Linked DNA regions of Homo sapiens: region 1 is linked to region 2. The links come from fine-mapping of genetic effects on gene expression. A gene starts in region 2. The other region holds a variant in brackets. All regions are shown on one strand. Distances are between the middles of the regions. Region 1 overlaps LRRN2 (leucine rich repeat neuronal 2). Region 2 holds the start of LRRN2 (leucine rich repeat neuronal 2).

What was found. PIP is the estimated chance that this variant, and not a neighbour inherited with it, causes the effect.
Region 1: its variant is fine-mapped to the expression of LRRN2 in thyroid (GTEx, PIP above 0.99).

What each region holds. Positions count from the first base shown.
Region 1 is chr1:204,647,894-204,657,413 of GRCh38, reverse strand. The region is part of intron 1 of LRRN2 (leucine rich repeat neuronal 2); the gene reads left to right. Among named protein-coding and RNA genes, the nearest start is that of LRRN2, 33 kb to the left of the region's middle. RefSeq lists an enhancer at 9,244-9,520. The variant C/T (reference allele first, on the strand shown) is at 5,301.
Region 2 is chr1:204,681,335-204,690,854 of GRCh38, reverse strand. It overlaps LRRN2 (leucine rich repeat neuronal 2), which reads left to right and starts at 5,117. Exons shown (of 2, transcript NM_201630.2): 1 at 5,117-5,535.

The sequences.
Region 1 (9,520 bases), 33 kb after region 2:
TTGTAGTTGAATATTATTGCATTGTATGGATATACCATATATATGCGTGTGTGTGTGTGTGTGTGTGTGTGTATATATACATATATATAGACACATAGATATATATTTTGAGATGGGGTCTCACTGTGTCACCTAGGCTGGAGTGCAATGGGGTGATCTTGGCTCACTGCAACCTCCGCCTCCCGGGTTCAAGTGATTCTCCTGCCTCAGCCTCCCAAGTAGCTGGGATTACAGGTCTGCACCACCACACCCGGCTAATTTTTGTGTTTTTAGTAGAGACGGGGGTTTCGCCGTGTTGGCCAGGCTGGTCTCAAACTCCTGACCTCAGATGGTCCACCCGCCTCGGTTCTCAAAGTGCTGGGATTACAGACGTGAGCCACCACGCCTGTCAGATATACCATATTTTTTTATCCATCTATCAGTTGGTAGACATTTGGGTGATTTTTATTTTTTAAGGAAGATGCAGAGAACAAGTTCTTGGAGACTTAAAATATGTTGTTTCCTTCAATGAAGATGATTACTTTGCAGATGGCGAGGATCCATTAGGTGCCCAGCACAATTAATGAAGAAGAGACCCTCACAAAGACACAACATTTTGAGATTTCAGAATGTCAGGTATAAAGTGAAGATTCCACAAGCCAGGAAGAAAAAGACAGGCTTTAGGATAGAGCAGACTTCTCAACAGCAGCCCTAGACGCAAATAGGTCATGGAACTGTGTCTTCCAACATGTGAGGGAATGTTATTTACAGTCTGAAATTATATTTCCAGTCAAACTGTCAGATATGGAGGCTCAATAAAGACATGCAAACATTTGCAAAAATGTTCGTGCCAAAATTTTCAAACACTCAGACTTTCAAGAAACTTAGCTCTTTTTCAAAAGCAACTCAAAAAAGATGTACTCTACCAAAACAAGGTGGAAAACAAGAAAGATGACATGAACCTCAGGGAGAGACAAATTGTTAAGAATATTTACTATCATAAGAAAAAGCCTGAAAAGATATGCATCAAAATGTTAACAGTGGTTATGGCACCAGGAGGTAGAAAAGGGGATTGTTTAAATTTTCTCCATGTTTTTCTATACCTTCTAATTTTTCGATAAGAATGTCATACTGTACCTACCAGTTACTATATCTTTGACACACGTGGATGCAGACAGCCAAGGGCAGGCCAGAGATAGAGAAGAGACAAAGAAAGAATAGAGGGGGGCCAGGCGTGGTGGCTCACACCTGTAATCCCAGCACTTTGGGAGGCTGAGGCGGGCAGATCATGAGGTCAGGAGATCGAGACCATCCTGGCTAACAGGGTGAAACCCCGTCTCTACTAAAAATACGAAAAATTAGCCGGGCGTGGTGGCGGGCGCCTGTAGTCCCAGCTACTGGGGAGGCTGAGGCAGGAGAATGGCGTGAACCTGGGAGGTGGAGCTTGCAGTGAGCCGAGATCGCGCCACTGCACTCCAGCCTGGGCGACAGAGCGAGACTCCGTCTCAAAAAAGAAAAGAAAAAAGAAGAGAAGGAAAGGGAGGGAAGGAAAGATATGGAGCGTGGAGCTCTGGGGGCCACTGTGCTGCTCTGAACACAATTATCCTGCGTTTCGGTGCCCTTGTCCTGTCGGCAGCCCCCAGGGCCACAGTCATATTTGTGAGTCTGTCAGTCTGCCCTGCTAGGTACAGATCTCCCTCAGGACAGAGGCTGGATCTTGTTCATCTTGTATCTATTCCCAGTGCCTGGCAGAGAAAATACATGGAATTGGTGCTTGAATGAATGTAGAGAGGAAGAGAAAGGAAGGAGGAGAAAAAAAAAAACAAAAAAACCTCACCTGGCTGGGCATGGTGGCTCATGCCTGTAATCCCAGCACTTTGGGAGGCCTAGGATGGCAGATCACTTGAGCCCAGGAGTTCAAGATCAGCCTGGGAAATAAGTAAGACCCCTTCTCTAAGAAACAAAAACATTTTTAAAAAATTAGCTGGGCATGGTGGCACATGCCAGTAGTCCCAGCTACTTGGGAGGCTGAGGTGGGAGGATCACTTGAGCCTGGGAGACAGGGGCTGCAGTGACCCCAGATCGCGCCACTGCACTCCAGCCTGGGTGACAGAGCAAGACCCTGTCTCAAGAAAACAAAAACAAAACCCACCAAATGTAGAGCATAAATTTGGTGAGACCTGAAGTAGGGATGCCATCAAGGTTTTAGCACCACTTGCTGGGGTGGTCAGTTCCGCTGTCGGAGAACTTACCTCATTTCCACTCTTGGAGGACTTACCTCAGCTGGGTCCAGCCACCTGTGTCCCACTGCCACTCAGCTGTTTCTTCAGGCAAGGCCTGGGGGAGCTTGGAATGTCCACAGGGGCTAGAGAATGGAGAATGTCTTTTGCACCCATTAAAGTTTCAGAACAGCTACACTCAGACCACAGCTCCCCAGCTACTGGTAGTCCCAGAGCTCTTATAAACCTCCTGGGGCCTACTTGAGAGGAACATTTTGGGTTCATGGCAGGGGTGTTGTGCTGGGGGGGTGGCAAGAAGGGAAGTCCTGATTTGTAGTGTTTGCCAATTTTCATAGTTTTCAGTATTTCCATCACAGCCAATTTCAACCTACTATGTAATGTTATTGAGGGTGGAGTTGGGAAGAGGTGAGCTCCATCAGCTCTCATGGACTGGGGCAAGCTGGTTCCAGCACGCACTGGTTAATGCCAATGATGGATGTAACTACCAAGTGCCACTTCTGCATGAGCACAAAGTTGGATGACTTGGATGTTTGGATGGAATCAAAGAGCTTCTGGTCCAGGGAAGGATGGAAGTAGCCACATATGCTATGAGTACCGCCAGGGAGAGTTTGGTGGAGAGTTTTTGATCAGGGGATGCAAAAAGGATCAAGACAGCTGGATGGGACCTGCTATACAAAGAAAGAACTTTGTACAACTTCCTTATCAACTAAGAAAGCAGGCTTTCATTCTAATTGTTCTGATTTGCAGATGAAAAAACTAAGGCCTAACAAGCTAATAGTCACACAGCTAATAAATAGGCCACCGTTGGGACAAACCCAAGCCTTCTGATTTTCATTAAGATTAAACTTGTCTACAGTATTCAAACCCATAAATCTTCAGTGAACAGCTTTGAACATTTCAGTACCCAGAAGGCTCCTCGTACCCCTTCTCGGGTAATTGGGTCTTCTAATTCTTAATCCAGTCCGCTTTACACCAGTCCTTACTGACTTTGGGTTGGCAGTATATCATGTACTTACAAGTATGGCTTCAAGGACAATCTTCCTCAGTGGTTAAGCACACAGACTTTGGGGCCAGACTGCCGAGATTCAAATCCCAGCTTCAGCTGTTTGACCCCAGGCAGGTTACTTAATCTCTAGATCCTTTTTTTTTTTTTTTTTTTTTGTCAGGGTCTCACACTGTCACCAAAGAGGGAGTGCACTGGCACAATTATGGCTCACTGCAGCCTCGAACTCCTAGACTGAAGTGATCCTTCCACATCAGCCTCCTGAGTAGCTGAGACTACAGGTGCATGCTACCATGCCCAGCTAAATAGTTTTTCTTTTTTTTTTTTTTTGAGATGGGGTCTCACTCTGTTGCCCAGGCTGGAGTGCAGTGGTACTACCCTAACTCACTGTAGCCTTGACCTACAGGGCTCAAGTGATCCTCCTGCCTCAGCCTCCCAAGTAGCTGGGACTAAGGTTGCACACCACCACACCTGGCTAATTTTTTAAATATTTTGTGGAGACAGAGTCTCACTATGTTGCCCAGGCTGGTCTTGAACTCTTGGTCTCAAGTGATCCTCCTGCCTCTGCCTCCCAGAGCACTAGGATTACAGGCATGAGCCACTGCACCCGGGCCAATCTCTGTATTTTAGATTCCCATTTATAAATGAGGATAAAGGCATCACAGGGTTGTTGTAGGCTGATATGGGTTAATACAAGTAAAGTGCTTAGAACAGTTCCTAGTTCATACCAAGTGTTCAGTAAGGGTCAGCCTATCATTATTTGGCAAGGGAGAAGCAGCCGTCCTGGCCCAGAAATCAGAGAGGTGTGAAGAAATTGATTAGAGATCAAGAAGGCAATCAGCCTCAGGCTTCCTTCACGGTTTCCCAACCTGGGGTCAGTGGAGCCAACTCCTAGAGAAACTTAGAACTTCTGAATTGAGAGGGACTAGCAATCTTGTAGCTGGGTACTTGTATCTTGCAGATGAGAATCAGAAGCCCAGAGTTCAGTGTGTGCCCTTATATTAATATTAGGCTAGTGCAAAAGTAATTGTGGTTTTTGCTGTTACTTTCAATGGCAAAAATCGCAATTACTTTTGCACCATCTAATACTAGTCACTTCCCTGCTGTGGGACTCTGCTTCTTCCATTGAAAAGGAAGCAGAATGAGGTGGATACCGAGGTCCCTTCCGCAGAAGCTCTGACCTGAGGACCAACTCACCTTGCTTAGATGTGGAGGCTGCACCCGGGACAGACCCCCACGTGAAGGTAGCAAGTTGGTGGGATAGGCAAGACCTCACCTCCCTGCCAGCACCCTCCATCTGTAGGGGAATGGCTTCTGAAATGGACCCAGTTGCAGGACTGCCCTGGGCTAGCTCTTTTCCCAGGAGGCAGACCCAGCTGCCTGCATTGGAATCACCTGCTTGGAAGCTGTTCAATCTGCAGGTGTCCGGGCTCCACCCTGAGGAGTGGGATGGGTATTTGCATGTTAACAAGCTCTCTGGGTGATTCGTGGGCACGCTCTTAGTTTGAGAAATATTGGATTGGAGGGCTGGGATCCAGGATGGGAGGTGCAAGCTCTCATATTAGAAATAGCTGCCATTTATCCAGTACCTACTCCATGTGGGGCACTTTTTGACATCTCTAATCTTTACAACCACCACCCTGCAAAGTAGGCATTATTACTCTAATTGTACAGAAGAGAAAACTGAGACCCACAGCAATTAACTTGCCAGGCATCATCCAGATAATGAGACAAGGAGCCAAAACTTTAGCTCGGTCCTTCTTTGCTCTTCTGCCTCCTTGCTGAACTCCTAAACAGCTGCCTCTTACCTGACTCGAAACAGCGCTGGGAGGTGACCAGCTGAACCGGGAGAGGGGTGGGTTAATGTCAAGGCGCCTGCAGCTGTGGTTCAGGGAGGCAAGGAGGAAGGCGGCGGGGGGGCGGGGGGGGGGCGGTGAAGAGGAGAGGGCGAAGGGGAGAGAGGAGGGGGAAGGGTCCCATGGCCCATCTCCGTTTTTCCGTCTCCCTTTCTCTCTCAGGCATTCTTCAGGCTCACAGCCGCTGTTTTGACAGGGTGTGAAGCCATCCGCAACCTTTGT[C/T]TTCTCTGCTTCCCAGCCTCCTATTGTCTCACTAATTAAAGACGGCTTCAAAAATTTCCCCTGTTGTGTGCTGCTTGGCAGAATGCCAGCATCCCACTGGGGAAAGCCACAGCAGGCACCTGGTACCCGGGCACTGGGAGACACCTGGGCCCTGGCAGGGGCCGGCTGGGGAAGGGAGTTGGGCCAGGGGAGAAAGGAAGCAGCCTCGGGGCAGGGCAGGCAGGGGCTGGTAATTCTTAGGCCCTACAGCAGGAGGATGGGGTTCTGGAAGGAGGGCTGGGAGTTCTCACCTATCCTCAGCTAGAGTTGCTCAGTCCCCATTTGAAAGAGTTTTCTGAGCGATTCCCCAGCAGCCCCCATCACCTGCTCCTGTGTCCGACAGAACTTCCCTTGGGATGCTTTTTGTGACAACTCACCTGAAAGCTCTCATTCCCCAAGCCATTGCCCAGGCCATTCCTTCTGCCATATGGTGACAAGCCATCTGGTTTGCCTGGGGCTGGGGGGTTTTGGGGGGATGCAGGACTTAAATGCTGAAACTGGGAAATGGGGACAAGTTGGTCACCCCACTCTGCTTCCTCATCATCCAGGTGTCAGTCCCTTCCTCAAAGAGGCCACCCAAGTTAACACAGCACCAAGTCACTCTCCTCTGACCCTGTTTAGTTCCTGAAATAGCTTTTTATTGCTGCCATAACAAATCACCACAAACATAGCAGCTTAAAGAAACACACATTTGCCATCTCACAGCTCTGTCGGCCAGAAGTCTGTCTGGGTTGGCTCAGCCGATTTCTCTGCTCCAGGTTTCCAAAAGGCCAAAATCAAGGTGCCAGCCAGCTGGACTCTATCTGAAGACTCTAGGAGATCCGCTCCTGAGCTCATTCAGGTGGCTGTAGGACTGAGGTCCCTGTTTCCATGCTGGCTGGCAGCTGAGGGTGGTCCTCGGCTCCTAGATGGTGCCTTCCAGTCCTTGTGCACAGCTTCCTCAGAACCAGCAACAGGATATCAGATCATCGCACGCTTGGAATCCCTCTTCTGCCTGCTGCTGGAGAAAGCTGCTTTAATGACTCATGTGACTAGATTTGTCCTACTCAGATAATCCAAGACATTCTCTAATCTTAAAGTTCATAACCGTAATTACATCTGCAGGATTCCTTCTGCCCTGGAAGGTGACAGATTCCATAGGCTCTGGGATTAGAGTGTGGGAGTCTTTGGAGCCCCATCCCTCCTGCTGTCTGTCATTCCTTCCGAGCCCCTACCACTCTCTGATGTCTACTTACACATTTATTGTCCATCTATCCCCCCAAGTAAAATCCATGAGCGGAGAGATTGTGTTTGAGTTGTTCAGTGCCGTGTCCCCAGCCCTCCTGAAGCAACACTTGGCACACAGTGGGTTGTTGATGTTTGTTGAATGAGTGAGTGAACTTTACAGGGACTTTTGGATGCAGAGTGGAAGTGGGAACTTCTGGCAGGTCCAAGGAGGCTTCCTACATACACCCCTCCGCAGAGCAGGTGGCATCAGGTAGGCAAAGCAACCCCTCCTGGATGCCAGGCCCCAGCTGCTGGCATCTCCCAGCCTACCTCTCTGCCAGTGTTCTTCCCTCTTCCCACCTGAGGGTAAGACTAGTAGGACCCCTACCCTCACCCCTGACCCTCAGTCTCTCCCTGCCTGAGAATCCCAAAGGGCAGAAGCCACTGCTGAGTGTGTCCCTGAGGGGTGGTGACGAGGTAAAGGCAGAGCCTGTCTGGCCTGCGCTGGGTTCAAAGCCAATGCACCTGGGACTTCAAACAATTAATTTCCCCAGTCTGCAAAATGATCAGCTTCTGAGGGAAAACAATTAGCCCACTGCAAATTGGAATTGTCATCTCACTCCTGATTTTAATTTGGACTAATGAGGGCTAAGTGATTCCTGCTCCCTCCCCTCCCACTGCCCCTAGGCCCTGAGCCCTCACCTGCCAGTGGGCACTTAACCCTCAGCTGCCCCCCTTGCATCAGAGGCTGAGGAAGTTTTTGGGCTGGCACAGGGCCCAGGGCCAGGCTGGGCAGGTGCTGGCAGGACAGAGGGAGGGAAGAAGAGAGCACCTCCGGCTCAGCCCACAGGGGAGCTGCCTGTTTACAAGGCTCATAGGTAATCAAAGTTTTATTGAATGGAATTGACTACTGGCTCACTCCTTGTCACAGCCAGTTACCTCTGGCTGCACAGTCTCTGGGGACCCTGCTTCCAGGAGTGTCTGTTTGCCTTCTTCACGCCAGGTTGCCTCTGCCTGGCCTTGCTCTCCCCATACCCCCTACTGCCATGGTGGGGAGAGGCCATGATTCTCTGCAGCCGGGAGAGGGCTCACGTCCATGTCTGCCAGTCATGGGGATCAGTGTGGGAAGTGAACCTTGGACCATTTAGTCTAACTCCAGTTCCTCTAAACAAATTAAGGCCTGGAGAGGAGAAGGATCTGGTCAAGGTCACACAGGGGTCAAGGCCCAGGAGGAACTCACGGCCCTTCATGTTTCTTCTTATTGCTTGCTTAATTGTCTGTCTTCTTTCCTGGATACTGCTTTCCTCTCTTGCCTGCACAATGCCTGGCATGTTCAGGGATGCAGGAAAGAAGAAAATAAAGCATCCCGGGCAACCCTGTCCATGTTCTTCTACCACCTCCCACCCCCACTTAGCCTCGTTTCCAGTTGGGTTGGTTTGATTCATTCATGTGCACATCCATTCGTTCACACACTGCATCTGTGTGCTGAGAACCAGGCCGTGAGCTGCGGATACAGAGATAAATAAGACCTATCCCTGCCCTCTAGGACCTCACAGTCTAGTGGTTTCTGAATGTGGGGCTGTTCAGCCCAGAGCGCCTGACCCTCAGCAGGTTGCTCTTAGGCGAGAACCAACCCTGCATCCTGAGCAGCAGCAGGTAAGGGAGTCAGCTGCAGCTCCTGGCTGCAGACTGGCCCTGTGCTCATTCACCTCTTTGAGTCGCCGCCACTGGTTGAAGAGTTTAGTTAGGAATCAGAAACCCTGAGTTCTTGTCCTGGCTTTGATGCTGATTTGCTCTGTGGCCTTCCACAAATCCCTTCACCTGGTGTACTTTCTGAAGCCAGGGTCTGGGCTTTGGTGCATCCACCTGACTTCTGATGACTCTGGCCTGACCTCATCCCAGCGCCACGCAGCTGCCTCTCCCTCCATGTGCCAGTGGAGGCAGCTCGGCTAGTGGAAAGGCCTCTGTTCTGGTCAGGAGCCATCTCTGTCTGGGCCTGCCACCACCACTGGGTAATCTCAGTTAGCTGTAAAGTGGGGAAGGTCACCACCTTAAGGGTTGGGGGCTGTGGTCTGAACAGCTCCACATTTCAAAACCACTAGACTGTGTGGTCCTGGAGGGCAGGGATGGGTCTTATTTATTTCTGTATCCCTAGCTCATGGCCTGGTTCTCAGCACACAGCTGCAGAGTATAAATGGATGAATGAATCAAACCAACCTAACCAAAAAGTAGGTTGGGTGGGGGGGCGAGGCTAGAAGACCAACTGTGTGGTAACAAGTCCATGCAGGTGAAGCCTCCCTTGAATAAAACTCTCAGGGCCATACAAGAGGACCTCATTGTTGGTATGCAGCGGTTGCTTCTTGGATACCATCCCTCAATTCAGTGGACATACGAACTGGAGGTGCTGCGGGGGAAGCAGTGGAAAGCACATGGAAGGAATTTCCTGGCTCTGGGCCTATTTTCTTGGGGTCCCTGGATTGGATTCTCTTTCAGGCTTCTTCCAACTCTTGACATGCTGGGATTTGGCATTGAGATGTACCCAGTAGTGAGGGCAGCCTTGGGAGAGGTTACAGCTTCTTCTGCACCCTGCCCAGGCCCTCTCTCACTGTGGGAAGGTGCAGTTGGCTGCACCTCTCTGACATTTTCCTCTTCACATTTTCCCCACTGTCTGTTTCCACACATGCTGCCAACCCCAGCCCATCCTGTTCCAACCCTGTGCTCTTTCCCTATGGTTTGGCCCATCTTGTCTTCAGTGGCTGTAGCTGGGCTCACCTTCCAAGTGTCCCTGAGTAAGTGGTGGAGGTGGGATTTGAACCTAAGTCTTTCTAATCCACAGTCTGTCAGAATATAGAAATGTATGTTCAATAGAAATATAATGCAAGCTGCATTAAAAAGGCAAAAAGAAACAGGTGAAGTTAATAACATATTCACCCAATATAGCAAAAATATTTCAAAATGCAATCAATAACAAATTC
Region 2 (9,520 bases):
ACTTGCAAGTGGTGCTGGCTGGCTGGTCTGTTTTCAGATGTGCCATGGGGCACAAAACCCTTGTCCCCCAGCTTCAGACCTCTGAGGCCTCCCTTTTTGCCCATACAGGTTCTGAATGGGGGAAGGGTGGTCACTCCAGTCCTTCCCATGGTCCCTTCTACCTAAAGCATTTCCTTCAGGAATCTTCTGAATATGTTAAACAGAAGAGGATTTGGTTATTGCCCAGTTTAACTGTTTTAGATACTCAAATCCAATTTAAGAAATACAGAGTACACTTTGGGAGGCCGAGGTGGGCAGATCACGAGGTCGAGACCAGGCTGGTCAACATGGTGAAACCCCGTCTCTACTAAAAATACAAAAATTAGTTGGACGTGGTGGCAGGTGCCTGTAATCCCAGTTACTTGGGAGGCTGAGGCAAAAGAACTGCTTGAGCCCGGGAGGCGGAGGTTGCAGTGAGCCGAGATCGTGCCACCGCACTCCAGCCTGGGTGACAGAGCAAGACTCCATCTCAGGGAAAAAAAAGAAAAGAAAAAGAAATACAGGGCCGGGTGTGGTGGCTCATACCTGTAATTCCAGCACTTTGGGAGGCTGAGGCGGGTGGATCACTTGAGGTCAGGAGTTCGAGACCAGCCTGGCCTACATAGTGAAACCCCGTTTCTACTAAAAATGCAAAAATTAGCTGGCCGTGGTGGCACGCGCCTGTAGTCCCAGCTATTCGAGAGGCTGAGGCAGGAAAATCGCTTGAAACTGGGAGGTGGAGGTTGTAGTGAACCAAGATCTTGCCACTGTACTCCAGCATGGGTGGCAGAGCGAGACTCCATCTTAAAAAAAAAACAGAGTAGAGGTGTATCATTTATGGTTGATTAAATATGGTGTCTGTGGTGTTTGTGCTTATGCCTATAAAAAGTTGGGCACCGGGACATTGGTGAGGAATGTAATTTTTATGATCACATTGTTTCTGGGCAAAAACAGGTTCAACCTACATCATTTTTACCTGCAGTGCCTTTTCCAGGAATATAACCCAAGATAAATTTGAAGACTCCCTGCAGTTCCACACAGCTCTGCCATCTGCAACGTGTGTCTCTCTGCCTTTGCGGTTTTCTGTGTTCCAAGGGTGTCTGTGGATCCTGGGAGCTCCCTGAGGGCAGGGGTCAGGGAAGATCCCAGTTCTGTGGGGCCGTCTTAAGAAAAAACCCGCAAAATTCCAAATACAAAATTAGGTACAACAGTGATATTTACTTACGGCCAGCAAGAAGATAACAATTTACATGAGCCTTGGACATTCAGGGTCCCTTTCTCCTGACATTTCTTCATTCCATTTACCAGAAATCCTTACATAAAAATGCTTCCTGTTCGTAAACTGGCTTCCCCTCTTCACCTAGGACACTCTACAGTTCCCAGCTTTCATAGCCCACCCTCTCCCCACCATCCTGCAAGTCGAGAAGCCCTAAAACTTGAGCTTCATTCCCTTCACCTCTGCCTCTGCCTCTGCCTTCACTTGTTCTCTAATAGCCCAGAGAACAAGGCTCTGCACATGGGGAGCCCGGGCAGGGGACGGTCAGAGAGCAATGGGCACCCCCAGGCCAGTCTGTCTCACAGTGAGGTCATCCAACCACCTGAATCAGAATCCCCTGGATGGTTTATCTGAAATGCAGACTCTGAGAACTACAGAATCTGACTCTGGGGTAGGACCTCAGCACCTGCATTGGCCCACACTCTCCAGGTGATTCCAAGGTCCACTGCTCTAGTGCCTTACTCTCTGCCTAGTTGGGTCACTGGTGGGGGACAACAGTCCTCATTGACTCCCCAGACCCCACCCCATATCTCCCAAGGAGGCTGAGCAGAGGCTGCACACAACACACAGTGTCGTGTGTGTGGAGGGTCCACTGAGGGACCCTCAGTGACCCATGCCACATCCCAGGCCTCCCTTCTCTGATTCGGCTCATGTGCCAGGCACCAGTAGGAGCCATCCTCTCCTCACAGCCCCCACCACACAAACAGCATCCCCACCAGTTCCATATCCTGACCCCTATATGAGAGAGCCACCTGGAATTGAGCTAAGGATCATTTCTAGCAGCATGTAATCCCTGCATCCCTCTCCCAAGACACTCTGATGTCACGGAGTTCCAGGCTTCCTGGTGGGAAATAATGCATGGCCAAGCCCAGAAATTAAATTTGGAGGGTGAAAGGTCAATAACAGGGCCATTAAATCCTCTGGGTAATTACCTAAGAGCTTCCAAAGGACTGTGAATTGGGGCAGCTTTTCCCAGGAAAGTATGAGACTCAGAATGGCAGCAATGGGAGCAGGGTTGGGAGAAAAATGTCAACCACATACCATGCACCAGCCACTGTGCTCATGCCAGCCATATAGTCCCTGTAACATCTCACAGCAACCTATAAGTATGAATCCATTCCATTATTGCTATCTTCATCCTAAAGAAGTGCTAGGGAGACTTGGCTTGGTGTTTGGACTCTGTCATTTGAGGACCCTGGATTCCCGTCTTAGCTCTGTTACATACTGGTTAGGTAAACACTGAACCTTGTTTTTCTCCTATCACTAGAGTCCTAGTATTGGTCAAATTTTTGATGAGATGATGCATAAATGTGCTAGCACCTTGCCTTGCATGTAGTAGGTGCTCAATAAATGTTAACTGCTATTACTTGAATTAATATCGTTACTCAGGAAAGAATCAGAGCTGGGGAAGTTCAATACTTTGCCTGAAGCAAGACAGAGTAAATGGACAAGTAGAGTTCCAAATCCAAATCTTTCCAGCTCTAAAAGCTACACTCTTTCTCCAATCTCATTGGGTTCTAAGACATTTGGAGTCAGCTCAAGATAAGCCTTCCCCTATTTTCTTCTCACAGCTGATGAAATTCCCTTATGCCTCATCTAGTACATCTCACAGGCTTTGCCACTCAGGATCAACCACTTAGTGAACGTTACTTGCATTTATCCCATTTATTATTTCAATAATCAGTTATTGGACATCTACTATAAAGGACTGGTCTTATCTTATTAAGGTGTAAGACAGTCATAGGCTCCAGAAGCTTACCCTCTGGTTAGGAGATAAGACACTTGAGTATGCATAGTTATTGGGAAGCTGGGGTGCTGACATGAGTGCTCTCTCCGGTCGTGCAGTTGGTAAAGGACTCCTAAAATGTCCTCCTTTTCACCATCATCCTGTCTACATTGACATTGGCCCTTAGACTGGAAAGGTGGCTCCAGTGACTCGACAAGGGACTCAAATGCTCAGGCTAAAAGCTTGGAGTCAAGTTTTGACCCCTTTCAATCAGTCAGTCTTACAGTTCTGCCAAGTCTTCTTTACAAAGGCCCATGCATTTACTCTATTCTCACTGCTCCCCTCCTCCTAGATTCCTGCAACAGCTACCTCAATAGTCTCCCATCCTCCTGCCTCTTTCATCCCAAATCACCTGAGGATGGGTCCACAGATAAACTGCTGAGCCTGGCAATTCGGGCCCTTCATCAGCTGCTCCCACCCTGTATACTCAATGTGGCATTGTCGCACTGTGAAAATGAGGTCTCACATTCTGCCTACAGATTTTGGGCTACTGCCTTAAACGATCTGGGCCTCCATCCCCCGGTCTGTTAAAAGGGGATATTAGTCAACTCAGAGTCTAAGATGACAGAGATGAGAAAAGGCTGGCATCTAATAGTAGCTCTATAATTTTCCTCCCTTGCCCCCTACCCTCCAGACAACCCATTCTACTCTGCTTGTCTCCACTTTCCTGCCTTTGCTGGTCCCCATATTCTCTTCCAGTTCAAATCCTATCCCTCCAACTAGGCTCAGTTGGAGACTCAGCTCCTCCGTTAAACCTTTTGTGAATAATGCTAGTCCATTAAGGTGGTTTCTTTTTGTATTTCTATGGCACTTCCATCGTCTTGAAATATTAAAATTGGTTTCATATAGTTCCAACCTGTCACTCTGAGCTCCTTGAGGCCATTATGCTCCGTAGCAGGGGTGGAGAGTGGGAACATGGGGGTGGTTTAGTGGGAACTTAATATGTGCTCATTCAATATATGAAGGTGAGAATCCCCTCTGTGCATACAGAACTCAGACCTTCAAGCCAACTTCACAAAAGCCACCAGGCATGGCAGTCACCACTGGCTGTACCCTTGGAAAAGACAGGGCCAGAAGCTCAAGCACTGGATGACGGCAGGCAGCCCAGGGAAGCCACTCCTCACAGGACTCCACACCTTGGCCTCCACCTCATCCATTCCCCTGTTGTTGGTTCTGCAGGCTCTGGTCCAGACCCATCAGTAGGGTGTGGCCTGCCATGGAGCCGAGTTTGTGATGTCTGTTCTGAGTGGTCCAGGCTGAAGTCCCCACCAAGGCATGGGTGTTGGGCATTGGGCCTTTGCCCTCCTCTAGTGGCAGTCACCCAGCTTTTCTAAGCCACCAGGCAGCAGCCTAGCACCCACCTTTGGCACCTTCTTACTTTCCTCCCCCAGTCTTCATGATGTCCAGCTGGCAGAGTGGGGAACCCTGAAGCCAAACCCCTAACTGGGCCTGCCAGTTCCTGACTGAAATTGACCTCCTTCATTGAGAGCCAGGACGGAATCTTCCAGAATGCTAGAGCTGCACGGCTCAGGATGCAATGCTGGAAAAGCATGACAACTAAAGGGGTCTTCCACTCCATTCTTTAGGGTGAGAGGTGCCTGGGCCCAGTGACAAATTCTCACCCACCCCACTACATTCCTTAGTCCACTGTTAACTTCGGGAGGGTAGCACCATGCAAAGCAAAAATGTGATCTTAGGTGCATGCTGTGACTGTGAGCTGCACCTGTCCTCACAAAGCTGCTGAATTCCCCATTCGTCTCCTGGCCTTTGCAAGAGGGTCCGAGGCAGTATGAGAGAAGCCAACCCTTCTCTTCCCGGACCCAAGGGCTGTGCCCCTTCTCTCAGCCAAGCCTTGTGTCTCTAGGCACAAGGACAGCTCAAGCGTTAGCGTCTGGCCCCACCCAACTCCTTCCTCCCGGGTGTGTGTGCGTTAGGTAGAGGGGGCCTCTGGCCACTCAGGAGTTAAAATGGCAGCGGGACTGGAGGGGGTTGGCGTGGCATGCAGACTGGGAGGAGGCGACCGGAGTGGGCTGGGGAGGTTGGGAGAGCGGCGGAGAAGCGAGTGAGGAGGGCGAGCGCGAAGCCGGGAAGAGGGGCGCGCGTGGAGGGGGTGCCGGGCGCCGCGAGGGCCTGCTCCGGGCACCTGCGAACGCGCGGCGCTCTCAAGGAGCGCCTGGCTCTCGCCCGCCAGCCTCCGGCCGCGACGCGCCCAGGGCGCGGAGAGGGGGTGGGGACGGATTGGGATTCTGCCATCGCCCTCACCGGCTGGGCCCTGGAGCCGCTCCCAGGATAACTCCACGTTGGGGAGGGCGCCCGCCGAGCCTCCCCGGCCTGTGCAGACGGCGCGCGCGGCGGGAGGGCGCGGACCAGCGTCCCCAGCCCGGCCCCGGGCGGAAGGCGAGCGGAGCGCGGCCGCGCGGGCAGCAGACGGCAGACGGTGCCCGGCGCCCACGGGGTGAGTGTGCAGCTTCGGGGCTGACCTGGGCAGCGCCGCCGCCGCCGGGGAATCGTGGACACCGAGGTCGCTGGCGTGGCCGAGGCGTACGCGGCGGGAGCGGCCGGAGCAGCCGCCTCAGGGCTCCTGGCTCCTGCCCCGGCACCGCAGCTCCGCCTGACCCGGGTGGGGGCCAGAGGAGGGCCGGCCGCTGCCTTCCGCCGAGACGCCTGCGGGGGAGCCGGAGACTTGGGAGAGGGAGGCGGCCGAGGGGCAGAGGGACGGAGGGCTGGAGAATGCCCAGAAGCGGCCAGGGAGAGGGCGCCTGGGCCTTCGCCTGGAGAGGCCAGAACCTCCCCCAAACTGTTGCTGGGTAGAGTGGGGCCCTGGAGATGTGGAGGAGCCGAGAGGTGGCAGTGAGGTTAGGGAGGGCGTGACACGGGCGGACTGGCAGGCTGGAAGCGCTCCAGAGCCTGGGGACTTTCTCCTCCTTGGAGCTCGCGAGTCTGTGCGGAGGGACAAGGTGGCCTTGGGTCTGTCTGAAGTATCTGGAACCAGGAGCTAGGCTCCTCCCGGGCCGGCTGGCTGGGGTCCGACCGCAGCCTGGGATGGGACCTTTGGGGTGGGGGATGGGCCGGCCTGGGGCTCAGCCTGGGGACTCGGTCAGGGGGAAGCGGAAACGGAAGGGTGGCTCTGAGCCCACCGCAGGACCCAGGAGACAGGATGGGCTGGCCAGCCACAGGTGGGCCGTCTGTCCTGCTGGCAAAGGGTGGCGCAGGCTCTGGCTGCCCAGCCGGCGAGGAGCCGCGGGGTGAGGGAACTGAGCTCCATCTGGGGCCGAGCGGAGAAGCTAAAGAGGTGCAGGAGACCCGGAACCTGGGGAGGGGCCCCGGGGGTAGCACTGTGCTCCCTACCCTTCCTCCCCCACCCAAACGAACAGGAAGGAAAATGTCAGCTGGGCTTTGTGCTCTGTTCCTCAGGCTGCCGCAGCTCCCATCTGTTGGAGCCAACGCAGCTTCTAACTGGGCGACTGGCAGGGTTGGAGGGGGTGGGCTGGGCACAGCGCTCAGTTGCCAGAGATGGACTGACAGGCCCTCTGCTTGAGAACTCCAGGACCTAGGGTGGTGAGGAGAACAGCCTCCCTAGGTCAGGGCAGTAGAGGTGACTCCCTGCCAGTTTGGTCACTGTCATAGGGGAAGATGTAGGTCTCCCCATGCACCCAGGCCGATGGCAGGCTCCGTGCCCCCCTTTCCCGCCAGTCTAGGATGGGCTCTGGCCCAGCGTTTTGTCCCTGAATAAGAAGGCCAGGAGCTCCTCCCATTGCCCACTGCTTCTTAAAGATCCCTTCAAAAAAGAGCACTGGGCATGGAGGGTAGAGGTGGGCTCTGCACTGGGCACTGGAGCCCCCTTGCCTTTGGGCCCTGTGGCTACCAGAAAAAGCCACATGTGGGTGGCCTGACCCACTTTCCTGGCCAGGTGCTGTTGTGGCGAAACGATGGAAACAGAAGGGCAGAGCTAGGGATCTGAGCCTCCTAGGCCTTCTTCCTTCCCCTGTGCTGACTCAGGCTTCTCCTTCTTGCGGAGGGCTCTCTCTGGTCCTGGGATGGGTCCTCATTATTTGCAAAGCATGGAACTAAAGGCCTCAGTGCCTGGGAGATTGAGGTCTGCCCAGGGTCTGGCACCTAGGAACACCCCCAAATCCACACCCTCTCCCTAATGCAGTCTCCTCCCGGGGAAACACCGAGTGGCAGTAAGATCTCAGAGATCTGCTAATTCCATCCAGGCTAGTACAGCAGGTTCCCTCTCTAATTCAACACAGTTCTTCCTCACTTCCCATCCTATTTTCCCTGTGCCTCCCCTCTTCCTCCTCCCCCTCATCCTCCTCTCCTTCCTTCACTCTTCACTTTCCTCCTCTAACACTCTTCACTTCCCTTTTCCCCCTCACACTGCTCTTCCTCTTCTCTCACCCTCCTCATTCTTCCCCAGATATCTCCCTTTCTTCCCAGGCTCTGTCTCCACTTTGCCCTGCTTCTCCTGTAAACTGCAGCTTAAACCGTAAGCCAGGCGTGCACGCACTCCTGCTCATCCTGCCAGTGGGAGCACATGCACTGTTGACTTTGCTGCATCCCTTTTGCAGAGGAGCCTGGGCTGGTGGGCCTGGCAGCTGCATTTGCCTGGCCCTGGTGTCCCTTGAACCCTGTCATTTACTCACCTCCCCCTTCTACTCCCCACACCCTTATGTCGTTTATTTGAAAGGAAAAGGAAACTCCATGGCTTTTAAAAAAATGTATTCATTCAACAACTGTTTCTTGAGTGCCTACTGTGTGCCTCTCATGATTTTAGAAGCTGAAGATACAGCGGTAAACAAACCTCCATGTCTCAAGCTGACCACACTTGTATCTGGACTTGCCAGCTGATTAGCTCTGTTCCCACCAGGCTCGTTCAAAGACCCACAGCTTGAGGGGGCAGAGGTGAGGAACATGAACAATGCTAGTGAATTATCACACTGAGTGACCTCTAACATGCCAGGTACCGCTTAAGTCATCCTGTCCTTAGGATACTTTTCTGACCTGAAAGGATGGACCAGGTCACATCTCACCATTTATCTGGCAGCCCAGGGCAAGTAGAAGGCTGGTGCTTCAGACAGAGAAGGGGGAAGGAATCAAATTTATTATTGAATACCTATTATGCACCAGTCTATGTGAGGAACATTACAAAAGTTATTCTGTTCAGTCGTGCTGACAACCTTCTAATGTCTGCATTACCATCCCCTGTTTCCTAGCCAAGGAAATTGAGGCCTGGAGAGGAGAAACCACTTGCTCCGGGTCATATAGATCTCCATTTTGAAATCACTTGTATCTGCAGTTGATTTGGCCCTATGATATCTGTGACATCTGGTAACTTGTACACTTATACTAAGGCTTACATTCTAACCTAACTTTTCATGGGGCCTTATCTCCCAGTTAGACTATTAATATGTATAAGGATTTGCTGAACGGTTGTGTGAATAAGCTTTCTTAAGTGATCAAGGAAGGCTTCCTGAAGGAACTGGGACCCTGAATGAGGAGGCAGGGAGGGCAATGACTTTTCCTGTGTCATCCTACACAGGTATGTGACAACTTGTAGGCAGGAAGTCCCTCATCCCACACCCCACCTGCATTCAGGTAGAATTGACTCAGGGTCAGGATATAGAAGCTTGATCTATGGCCCATCTAATGAATAAATGTCACTTGTGTTCTTAATCTATATGGCTTGGACTCTTTATAAAAGCTCCAAGATAAAGGATGGGGACTAGAAGCTTTCAAGCCTACAAGGACTCCAGGGAAGGACAAGGACCATAGTTGGAGGCTTGAATGGGGCAGGAATGGGGAGAGTGACCAAGGAACAGAAGAGAAGGAAGACAAAGGCAGAAGATAAACTGAGAAACAAAAAACACTTTTGACAAAAATGAAGTAGCTAAAAAAGACAACAAAACAAAACCGAAGACAAGAGATATGCAAAAAAGACAGCAGCATGTGATTAGATTGCTGAAAGGACGAGTCAGAAAGATGCCTTTATCTGTTACTTTCCAGTGCGGGGCCTGGGTCTCCGTGGCCTACAGCTCAGAGGCTGAAATTTCACCAAGTTAGCCTCAATCAGGCATTTGCTTATTCAGTCAACCCATCTTTTCTAAGTACCTACTGTGTGCCTGGCTCTGTGCTAGGTGCAGGGGACAAAGAGACAGATCAGATGTCCCTGCCTTCAAGGAGTTCACCGTCAGAGTAGAGATTCTAGAGCCACACAGCTGGAGTTCAAATCCAGGCTTCACCACTTCTAGCTGGGTGACATTGAGCAGGTCACGTAACCTCTCTTCGTCTCAGTTTCCTCATCTATAAATGGGATAATAAAAGTACCTACTTCATAAAGCTGTCATGAGGACTACATGAGGTGATACATGTAATGAGCTTAGAACAGTATCTGGTATATATATAGTAAGTGCTATGTAAGTAATATTATTATTGTTATT